2 separate regions of the Homo sapiens genome follow, and region 2 is linked to region 1. The links come from fine-mapping of genetic effects on gene expression. A gene starts in region 1. The other region holds a variant in brackets. All regions are shown on one strand. Distances are from middle to middle.

Region 1 (5,363 bases):
CCTCTCCCTGACTGGGGGGCTGAGCAGGGAGAGCTCAGCGCTCTGCAGTGTTTCCTGGGCCTGGGGTCCTGCTGATATCTTGAGAGCCTGAACCTTGCCCATGCTCTACCATATCCTCTTCTCCTTACAGCAAAACATTATGGGTTCAGAGAGGGAATCTCCACAGGAAAGCAAAAAAGAGGAGGCTGATCTCCCCAAAGGGGAGGCACTTGAGGGCAAGGCCCAGGTGGAAGGAACAGCTTCACAGGGATGAAGCTAAGTCTGAGAAGGGCATGGAACAGCTTGAGGGGACTTGACCCTCCCAGGCACAGCTGCTCCCATCAACTCCAACAGCTCCTTTCAGCTCCCCCAGGATCATCCCTAGGTCAGTCCAGATGCTGGCACCAAAGCCAGTGTGAAATCAGAGCAGGACTAAGACTTTTGCCAGGCAGCCCTGGGGCAGACATGCTGGAGGAGAGGGTGAGAACACTCCTCAGAGGGCACATGTCCAACCAATTGATCCAGAGAAGCCTTGGCCATAGCTGCAGCCCTGGCAAACACCTAGCTTAGTGCTCTCCACTAGCAGAATCCCCGGGGTCTCAATTCCAACGGGACTTTATGAAGTAAGAAAACAGTGAGATTTATCTCCCAATAGCACATGGAACAGTGCGCCACCATGCCAACACTGCCCTGCTCCAAGGGGCGGAAGAGTATGGCCAGGACCCTGACCCCTAAGCAGGCTCCATCCAAGTAAGCTTAGCTCTATTTGTACCCCTGACAGCCAGTTATGGCCATTGGCCCTTGTTTGGCCCCTCAGGGACGCCAAAGCAGGCAGAAGAGATGCATCCTCATTGTTTGTTATGGCAAACGGGGGTTAAGGATAACAAGTGAACATCATTCCCTGCTTTCAAGTAAGGGAGCCCCATCTCCCCATTCATCCCAGGGTGCATGCATTCCTGCATTTCAAGTTGTAGGGAGCAGATACAGAAAAGAACCAAAGAGGCAGTTCAGAAAGATGGGCTGGGCAGTCGGGGAGCCTGGGAGGGCCATGGCAGGGAGCTATGTGGGCAGGCGAGTAGGGAGGAGCCCTGTAAGGCTCCCAGCAGGGCCAGGACCCTTGGACTCAGCACAAAACAAAGGGAGACAGCCCCAGGCCTGCCTGCTCAGGACTGGTCTGGCTTCCATCCAATAAAGGAAGGACCCTTCTCCAAAGAGTCAAAACAACCCAGATTGTTTTAGTTCCAGATTATTTTCTGAGCCCTTGGCTCAACAAAACCAGGTCCAGGATGGTTTGGCATCAGTATAATTCCAGGAGACTGAGCTGCAGGTCTCCTGGGTTCCCAGTTTCCTACTGCACTGCTCATGCAGTTCCCATGGAGCTGGAACATAGCCAGTCTGGACGGAAGGCTAAGTCACAGCACCCTGAAGGGACCATCCCAAGACCCTAGAGTATCTATCCACAGGGGACCTGCCTGTAAGGAAAGACAAAAATAGCCCATTAGGGCACTGCAATACTGCCTGCCCAGAAAGAGAGCAAATGCCAGGTGCTCTGGGGGCACCATACCAGCGGGCACCCAGCCCAGGCCTGAGCTCTGCCATCAGTGACAGTCCCCAGAACTTCTGCTCTGTCACTGGAGTGCCCACCCCAGAGCCCTCATACCTTCTCCACGTTCTCCACAGTGAAGTCCAAGGCTGGTGCTGCTCCAGCCCCTGCAGCCCCCGGCTGCTCCTCCCGCCGCTCCATCTTTGCTCCCTCCCTGGCAGGGAGGTGGGCCCTGATCTGTCTCCTGCCCCAGCCCCTTGGCTGCTGGCCCCCTGCTAGACCCCGGCTTGGGTGCCCAGGGAGTGGTGGGGTGAGGGGGGGCCCAGGGCGGGCATGGCTGCCGAGGCCTCCCCACCTCGTTTGGGGGTGGGAGGCTTGCCAGAGACCAAAATTGGTGCTCTTAGGAGACCCAATGAAGGGGACTCCGAGGAGGGAGCCGTCAGTGAGGAGCTCTCAGGCGGGGATCCTAGTGGCAGGTAACAGCTCTGTCCCCAGAATCTGTGTGGAGGGAGTCACAGGGGAGGGAGGCCTGCGGGGGAAACCGAGTCCCTGGCTCTTGAGGGGTCACAGGGTCGATGGCCTGTACCCACAACACCCCCGCCTGGGTGAGCTCTCGGCTGCTATGAACAGGTCATGGGGCTGGAGGGTCACGGGAGAGAGAGAGCCCTTCGTGGTTACGGAGGCGTCCAACGAAGCGCGGAGATGCAGCTCCGCTAGTCTAGGGCGAAGAGTCCGTGGAGTTGAGGGGCTGTGGCAGGTCCCTTCCGTTCGGCCTGGCCCGCGCTGTGCTCAACGCCCGGCTACAGCCCCGCTACAGCCGCTGCCTCCGCCCCAGTGACTGACAAGACAAGCCAGGCCGGCCGGGACGGGGCAGGGACCTCGGCAAGGCGCGGGCTGCCCCGAGCGCCTGTCCCCGGCACCTCCAACTCAGGCCCCCACTCCTGCCAGTTCTGGCTCGGCACGGCCCGGTACAGGCCGGCACGGCCCAGCGGAACTGCGCGGAAACTCATTCCGGGTCCTTAGCCCTGTCCTCGCGCCAGCTCGCACTCCCCTGAGCAGGCGGTGGAGCGGCTCGCCGCCCCAGGCCGCGGCCGAGTCTAGGCCCCGCCGCTGTTCACCCTGGGAAATGTAGTCCGTGTTGCGCCTAGCCGGAAGGCGGCGCCCTGCGGAGGAGGCCGGGAGCACGTGGGTTGGGGACCTGCAGAGCCCCGCCTGTCCTCGGCCTACCGCGGCGAGCAGGCATTCCGGGTCAGACCGGCGCGGGGCGCTGCGGCCCAACTCCTTAGTAGGACGACGTGACTCGAGGGGCCGGAGGACGGAGGTGGGAGCCCGGGCTAGAGGGTGGAGGCTGGGGAGGTTGCCTGGTCACTCTGGCGCTCCGCTGCCGGGGGCATCCTCCGGCCCAGCAAAGGTGCAGCCTGGGAAGAAGGCGTCAGCACCACCCAGAGAAGAGGAGAGGGGACTTGGCACGCCTCAGGAAGGAAAAAAGGAAGGCTCTCGGGACCACCCAATAAGCAACCGGGAAACCACATACCATGGACAGTGCTCGGGGAATTTCGTAAGGTTTTTGGAAGTAACTTTATGTGTAACTAGAGTAAGAGTAGCTTACATTTAAGTGCTAGGAGCAGGACTTTGCTTACCTTAGGTTCAGTTTTCTTAATAGCTCTGAGGTGGATATTTTTATTCATCATTTTCAGATGAGATGAGGAAATCGAGCTTGGGGAAAGTTAGGCTTATCTTGCCCCTGGCACACAGACAGGGTGGCAGACCATGCCATAGATCTGGTCTGCCACAGGCCCCGGTAGTTCCTGCCTGTCACCCCTCCAGTTGTATTTTATTGTTTATTAACTCCTGCCAGCTACCCTAGCAGGGAAGAGGAAAAAATTAAAAGTGCAAAGAGCTCCGTAGTTTTGTTCAAATGGAGGAAGCTGGCATTGGAAGCTGGCATTGGCAGCAGCTGCTGAGGCCTGAGAAGGTCCATGAAGGCTTCCCTGAGAAGAGAAACTTGATCTGAGCTTGAAGAATAGAGAGCCTGGGAAGGAGAGGGGCCCATTTAGCTGGTAAGCAAAATCCAGTAGGACTCTAAGTCATTCAGCAAGTCTTCATCAATAAAGAATAGCAAGTAGGCCGGGCGCGGTGGCTCACGCCTGTAATCCCAGCACTATGGGAGGCTGAGGCGGGCGGATCACGAGGTCAGGAGATCGAGACCATCCTGGCTAACACGGTGAAACCCCGTCTCTACTAAAAATACAAAAAATTAGCCGGGCATGGTGGCAGGCACCTGTAGTCCCAGCTATTCGGGAGGCTGAGGCAGGAGAATGGCTTGAACACGGGAGGTGGAGCTTGCAGTGAGCTGAGATCACGCCACTGCACTCCAGCCTGGGCGACAGAGTGAGACTCCGTCTAAAAAAAAAAAAGAAAAGAAAAGAAAGAATAGTAAGTAATTTATATTCATTTTAAGAGAATATATGTGGGGTGGGGAAGGGGAAGGGTATGAGTAACAGAGATGAGGTTGGAAAGACAAGTTGGTGGCAATAGATTCTTGTAGGAGTTTGGACATTATCCTAAGTGCAATATGAAACCATGATGGGGTTTCAAGTGAGCAATGATGATTACATTTGCATTTTAGAAAAATCTGCAACATGAAAGACAAATTGAAGGAAGAAAGAGAGGCAGGAGACATTTGGAAGGAGGAAATAGAAAGCCAAAATAAAGTAACTGATTCCAGGCCTGTGCCTAGGGTGTGAAATACCTTGGGCCTGGTGCTGGCTGGCGGTTTCACTGGTGGAGGTGGTGGTGGGCAGGGGAGATGGTGTTGGGAGTGGGGTTTAAATGCACAAATTCTGGACTTAGTCCTGAGTTCAAAACCTGTTTATGCCTCTTTCTAGCAATGAGACCTTAGCTTCTTCTGAAACTCATTTTAGTTAAGGGGTTTTAGGGGTGGGGGGCTCAGCCCAGAGACCACAACTTAGTCAGTATGTGTTTTCTTCCTGCTTCCCATCCAGGGCTCCTCCTCATCCCTGGAGGTTCCAGGGATCTGGCAGAGAAAGAAGCCCAGTCTCACAGCAATGACTCCTGAACATCCTTTGCAAACACTATTTAGGACAGATGGACTGAAGTAGGCCCTGGGGAGAGTTGGGGGCATTTCCGGAGGCCAGACCAAAGGTGATCTCCAGGAGATTTGGATGTTAGTGCAGGATAGCTCAGAGCCAAGTGGCAGATAAGTCTTTGGGAGCCAGAAGGGCTCTTTCTTCTCTAAGGAACAAGTGTAGACCTATAGGGGCAAGAACCTGTGGCAACCCTGGGAGAGGTCTGCAGATTCAGGAGGGAACATCCCAAAACTCAGCAGAGGAGGAGAGGGAGCTTTTGTTGGTCACCTGGAACCACTACCAATCCATGTTCATGTCAAATTAAATGATCACTTTGAAGTTTTTCAGCCTACCAAAATCATGTGAATTTGGTCTGCAAAACCAGACGACTGCCTGCTTGCAGTTAAGAATTCTCAGCGGGAGGCCGGGCGCAGTGGCTCATGCCACCAGCACTTTGGGAGGCTGAGGTGGGTGGATCACGAGGTCAGGAGTTCGAGACCAGCCTGGCTAACACGGTGAAACCCTGTCTCTACTAAAAATACAAAAGTTAGCCTGGTGTGGTGGCGGGCACCTGTAGTCCCGGCTACTTGGGAAGCTGAGGCAGGAGAATCTCTTGGACCTGGAAGGTGGAGGTTGCAGTGAGCTGAGATCGCGCCATTGCACTCCAGCCTGGGCAACAGAGCGAGACTCTGTCTCAAAAAAAAAAAAAAAAGAAGAAGAAGAAAAAAAAGAATTCTCAGGGGGAGATTATT
Region 2 (5,363 bases), 390 kb after region 1:
TGGCAGGCACGGCGTCCCCCTCCCAGTCATCCCCTCCTTCCTCGGGTTTCCCTGGCACCCCACATCGCCCTACTCAACCCAGTTGAGGCCTCCCCACCACAAGAACCCAGGGGCCATGCCCTGCGCATACACCCGACCCACACTGGAGTTCCAGACTCGGGCCCACACTGGACTCTCCTTCAGTGGCTCCCCAACCTCAGTCCTACTCCAGGGAGACTCTTGTCATCCATTCACTCCCTAGGTTCGGGCCCTTCCAGTCACTACAGACACTGATAGCCTCCCTCTCACTTCTCAGCCCTGCTGTCTCCCAACACCAAAGCCAACAATGGCTCCACGGAACTAACTGTTAAGGACACATGCCGGGCCTCTCGGCAGCACCCCGCCCTGCTGACCACTCCTCCTCCTTCGCACACTTTTTTCTCTTGGCATTTCTTGACCTCACACACTCCCAGTTTCCCTCCAGTCTCTCAGGAACCTCCTCCCAACATGGAGAGTCGGTTCCTGGGGCTCCTTCTGTCCTGGCTCTGGCCTCCTGAGATTTGCTATTTCTCAGCCTGTAAGATTCCAACTTCAGATGTCCCCCGGAGTGCCAGGCAAATGTGTACGAGGCCTCTTTGACACCTCCCTGGATGCCTGCGCACACCTGGCTCAACAGATTTCTAACTGGACTCACCAACTCGCCTCCTCAAACCTGGTCCTCCTCTAGTACATGAATCTTAGAAATGGCACCCCCACCTACCCAGCCCCAGAGCCAGGAACCTGGAGCCTTGCACCTCCCCAATCCTACAGGTAGCCAGGCAGGCCTCTACTCTTTCTAATCTTATTTTTTTTTTTTTTTTTGAGATGGAGTCTCGCTTGGTCGCCTAGGCTGAAGTGCAGTGGCGCCATCTCATATCACTGCAACCTCTGCCTCCCGGGTTCAAGCAATTCTTATGCCTCAGCCTCCAGAGTAGCTGGGATTACAGGCTCCTGCCACCACACCCAGCTAATTTTTACAGTTTTAGTAGAGACGGGGTTTCACTATGTTGGCCAGGCTGGTCTCGAACTCCCGACCTCAAGTGATCTGCCCACCTTGGCCTCCCAAAGCGCTGGGATTATAGGCATGATCCACCGTGCCCGGCCTCTTTCTAACCTTCTAGTGATCTGCTCCCCTATCTTCCCCTACCCATACCCAGATTTGCGCCAATGCCATCACTCACCTGGACTGCAACAACCTGTCATTGGTTTCCTTCCAGCCCCCACTATGCACCCACACGGACCTTTCTGAAGCTTAAGTTTGATCACGTCATTGCTCTGATTAAAATTTGGCCAGGAGCAGTGGCTCATGCCTGTAATCCCAGCACTCTGGGAGGCCAAAACGGGCAAATCACTTGAGGTCAGGAGTTCAAGACCAGCCTGGCCAACATGTTTCGTGAAACCCCATCTCTACTAAAAATACAAAAAATTAGCCGGGCGTGGTGGTCCATGCCTGTAATCCCAAGCTATTCGGGAGGCTGAGACATGAGAATTGCTTCAACCCAGGAGGCAGAGGTTGCAGTGAGCCGAGATCACGCCACTGCACTCCAGCCTGGGTGGCAGAGTGAGACTCCGTTTCAAAAAAGTCCTCTCAGGGCCAGGCGCGGTGGCTCACGCCTATAATCCCAGCACTTTGGGAGGCTGAGGCGGGTGGATCATGAGGTCAGGAGGTCAAGACCATCCTGGCTAACACGGTGAAACCCCATCTCTACTAAAAATACAAAAAATTAGTCAGGTGTGGTGGCGCGTGCCTGTAGTCCCAGCTGCTCGGAAGGCTGAGGCAGGAGAATCATCTGAACCCGGGAGGCGGAAGTTGCAGTGAGCTGAGATTGTGCCACCGCACTCCAGTCTGGGCCACAGAGTCAGACACCATCTCAAAAAAAAAAACAAGTCCTCTCTCCCCAGCAAGCAAACCAGTAGGAGGGAGCACCTTACCAAGGATGGAGAATGTGCATGCACAGGGCATTTGGGCATTTAAACCGCCATCCTGGTGAGCCTGTTCCCAGAGCCATTGGCTCCACCGTGGTCATGAGGCTAGGGAACACGTACAGTGGGCCTTACAAGTACCTGTGAGTATAGGGGCAGGGGGGCAGGCTGGGCACAGGGGAAGTGCCCAGTGTCCATGGCTAACAGAAGAGGCAGGAGTACCACCTACTAAACAGGAGCACCCATTCGGAAGGGAATCCACTTGGGCGCCTCAAGGCAGATCACAGCTAATAAAAACAGGAGAACTTACTTAATACCTCTCCCATCCCCATCCCTGAGGCCTAGAACCTCCAGGAAATGATTGTAGAACCTCATGTCTGCGTGGATCTGAAATCTACTGCAGTCATGGGGGTGTAAGGACAGGTCACAGAGGACTACAGCAGCTGGACCAGGGGTATACAGGTCATGCCTCAGTTGCTAAGGGAGAGGTAGAAGCTGGCTTGGGTTCCAGGTTCTGGGGCCACTTCTACATCCTCTGTGCTGCAAATCAGGTAGTTGACAGCCCCAGCTTCTGCCAAAGCAGACTGTTACCCCAGACACACATGTAGACAATAGAAAGG[G/T]ATCACATCTTGCCACTTGGGAAGCCATCTTGTGCCTGCAATAGCCCTTTACCCAACTCCCCAGCCATCAAAGTCAGGCCTGGGCCAAGTCATTCCACCATGGGTGGAAGGAATATACAGGTTTGGAGCAGGGAAGGAGGTGGAGCAGGGAGAGATGACTCCTTGAGAAAACACACATGTACCCATCTTGCAAATGTAAGCTCCCTCACCAGCTCTGCTCCAGTTCCAGCCCAGCCCAGGATACCTCAGGACAGGGTCATATGTCTATCATTGACCCTCTGTCTCTAGGGCTATTTCCAAAAGGACTGTGTTGTGGAGTGGTCAGGGGGTATATCAAGAGGTCCTTCGTCATCCCACGAGCCCCAAAGCCAGCCAGGGTCAGAGCTCCTGCAGAACCCAGAGGTCCAAGCCCAGTACAGCACTGATTAGCCCCCACCCTGGTCACTACTTCATGTGCCGGACAGCCCTTCCCCAGAGCCTGCTCCAAGGCTGGCAACACCAGGCACTCCATCGAGACACCTGGATTCCCTGGCCCGCATGGCATAGGTGGTATGGTGCTGGCTGGACACTGAGGCCAGGTGGGAACAGACAGAAGGGACTGTGGGCTTGGTGGGGTAGGGGAGGGAGAGGAAAGGGTCCCAAGACCTCCTGCAGGCAGGTCTGGGCAGGATCCCTATCTGGTGCACCCCACCTCCTGGCCTGGCTACAGAGGAGCTGCTGAGGTCGACCACAACAGGTGCTGAGAACAGCTCAGCCAGACCATTCTGGCCACATCCAACTCTGTCGAACTTCCTGGCGGACCAACAGCTCCAAACAGGGATCCTGCGGGGTCCCAGAGACAATGAGCCCAGACACAGCATCTCCGACCTCCTGCCAGTGCCAGACTGACCCCACCACACTTCAGCTCGGGCTGCTTGCTGCCCACTCCTGCTGCTGCCCACACAGGTTGTAAGGCACACACCACCTGCTGTCCACTCCCACCCCCACACACTCCCGAGGCACACCTACACACACAGCCTGCTGCACATCACCTGCTGTGCACTCCACACACATGCACATGCATTGTCTGACATCAACACACATACACTATGTGCTGCATGTACAAGCACACAGCCTGCTGCACACCACCTGCTGTATGCACCACACACATGGCCTGCTGCACAAATATAGTGCCTGTTGCGTGTGCGCATGTACACACACACACACTGCCTGCTGCACACACACACGGCCTGATGCATACAAACACACAGTCTGCTGCACACCACCTGCTGTACACACCACAGCCTGCTGCATGCACACAAATGCACTGCCCACTGCATGCCACCTATTGTACACACACACACACACACACTGCCTGCTGCACACCATCTGCTGTACATACCATGCACACTGCTTGCTGTACACCCCTGCAAACTACCCGCTGCGCACACACACACTGCCTGATACATACACAGCCTGCTACACACCACCTGCTGGACACACACACATAAACACACTGCCTGACACATACACACAGCTTGCTACACACCACCTGCTGTACACACGCGCGCACACACACACACAGCCTGATACATACATAGCCTGCTACACACCACCTGCTGCACACCCCACAAACTACTCGCTGCACATAAAGATGCACACACACACCACACACTGCCTGATAAACACACTGCCTGCTGCACACCACCTGCTGTACAAACACACACACACACACACAGAGCCTGATACATACACACAGCCTGCCGCACACCACCTGCTGTACACCACACAAAGTACTCGCCGCATGCTGCACATAAACACACACCACACCCCGCCTGATACATACACACACTGCCTGCTGCACACCACCTGCTGTACACACACACACGCCTGCTGCACACAGTCTACTGCACACCTACTGCACACCCTTGCTGCACATAAACACACACACACTACCCGATATAAACACAGGTAGCCTGCCGCACGGCACACCGCACACATATACTGCCTGATAACACACACACACACTGCCTACTGCCCACACACTGCCTGATGCATATGCCTTGCTGTATACATAGCCCATAAGGTACTCACTACCTGCTTACCACCACACCACGCACTGCCTGACGCACACACGTGCACACAAACACTGCGCGCTGCATACACAGCCCATACAGCATGCAGTGCCTCCTGCACACACTGCCCCTTCCCCACTGCCTGATGGTAACGTGTGCGCTGACCGCTGCACACCCCGTTCTGTGCGCACAGCTTGCAAGGCAGCACCCCTGCTGCACACACTGCACCACACACTTCACACAAACACTGCCTTAAACATGGCACACAGGGCACCCACACCACACGAACAGTGCACGTTATCTGCCCTATCAATGACCCCAAGACAAGTAATGCTACCTGTACTCAGAACCCTTGGAGCTAAGCCCCCCAGGAGAAGTCCAAAACAGCTCATCTCTGCTCCACAGCTTCTTTCTTCTCCCCGCCTCCTTGTCCCTCCCAGAACCTACCCAAAGTCATCAGTGCCCTCCCCACACCACTGAATGTCTGGCGGCCTCCTGGGCTTTCCCGGCCAGTCCTTCCAGGCCTGAAATCTGCGGCCCCAGGTGAATCCATGACTTACAGACTGAGCTCCAAGACCTTCACTGCCCCTCAACCTCCTGGAGGGAAAGGCCAGGAATCCAGGCCTGCCTCCCTCCCCTCCCCCAGGGCTCCCCCTCCCTGGTGAGGGAAAATGTCAGATTCCCTGTCTCAGTGGCGGCAGCGGGCGGGTTGGAGGGGGAGTGATTCAGCCGCCGCCTCAAGAGTGCG

Alleles and levels. Alleles are on the strand shown, and positions count from the first base shown. SD is a standard deviation of normalised expression in the study named.
For the expression in unexposed skin of the gene that starts at base 2,374 in region 1, allele G in region 2 goes with a higher level than allele T (moderate effect, 0.52 SD a copy in GTEx).

What was found. PIP is the estimated chance that this variant, and not a neighbour inherited with it, causes the effect.
Region 2: its variant is the best candidate, but not a certain one, in a credible set for the expression of IPO13 in unexposed skin (GTEx, PIP 0.71).

What each region holds. Positions count from the first base shown.
Region 1 is chr1:43,943,961-43,949,323 of GRCh38, reverse strand. IPO13 (importin 13) reads right to left here and starts at 2,374. Exons shown (of 20, transcript NM_014652.4): 1 at 1,640-2,374. The coding sequence starts at 1,723. LOC101929609 (a long non-coding RNA gene) reads left to right here and starts at 2,725. Exons shown (of 2, transcript NR_188535.1): 1 at 2,725-2,843; 2 at 4,528-4,969. RefSeq lists a silencer at 2,329-2,578.
Region 2 is chr1:43,558,655-43,564,017 of GRCh38, reverse strand. All of the region lies in intron 5 of PTPRF (protein tyrosine phosphatase receptor type F), which reads right to left. Among named protein-coding and RNA genes, the nearest start is that of PTPRF, 30 kb to the right of the region's middle. RefSeq lists an enhancer at 2,775-3,352. The variant G/T (reference allele first, on the strand shown) is at 2,562.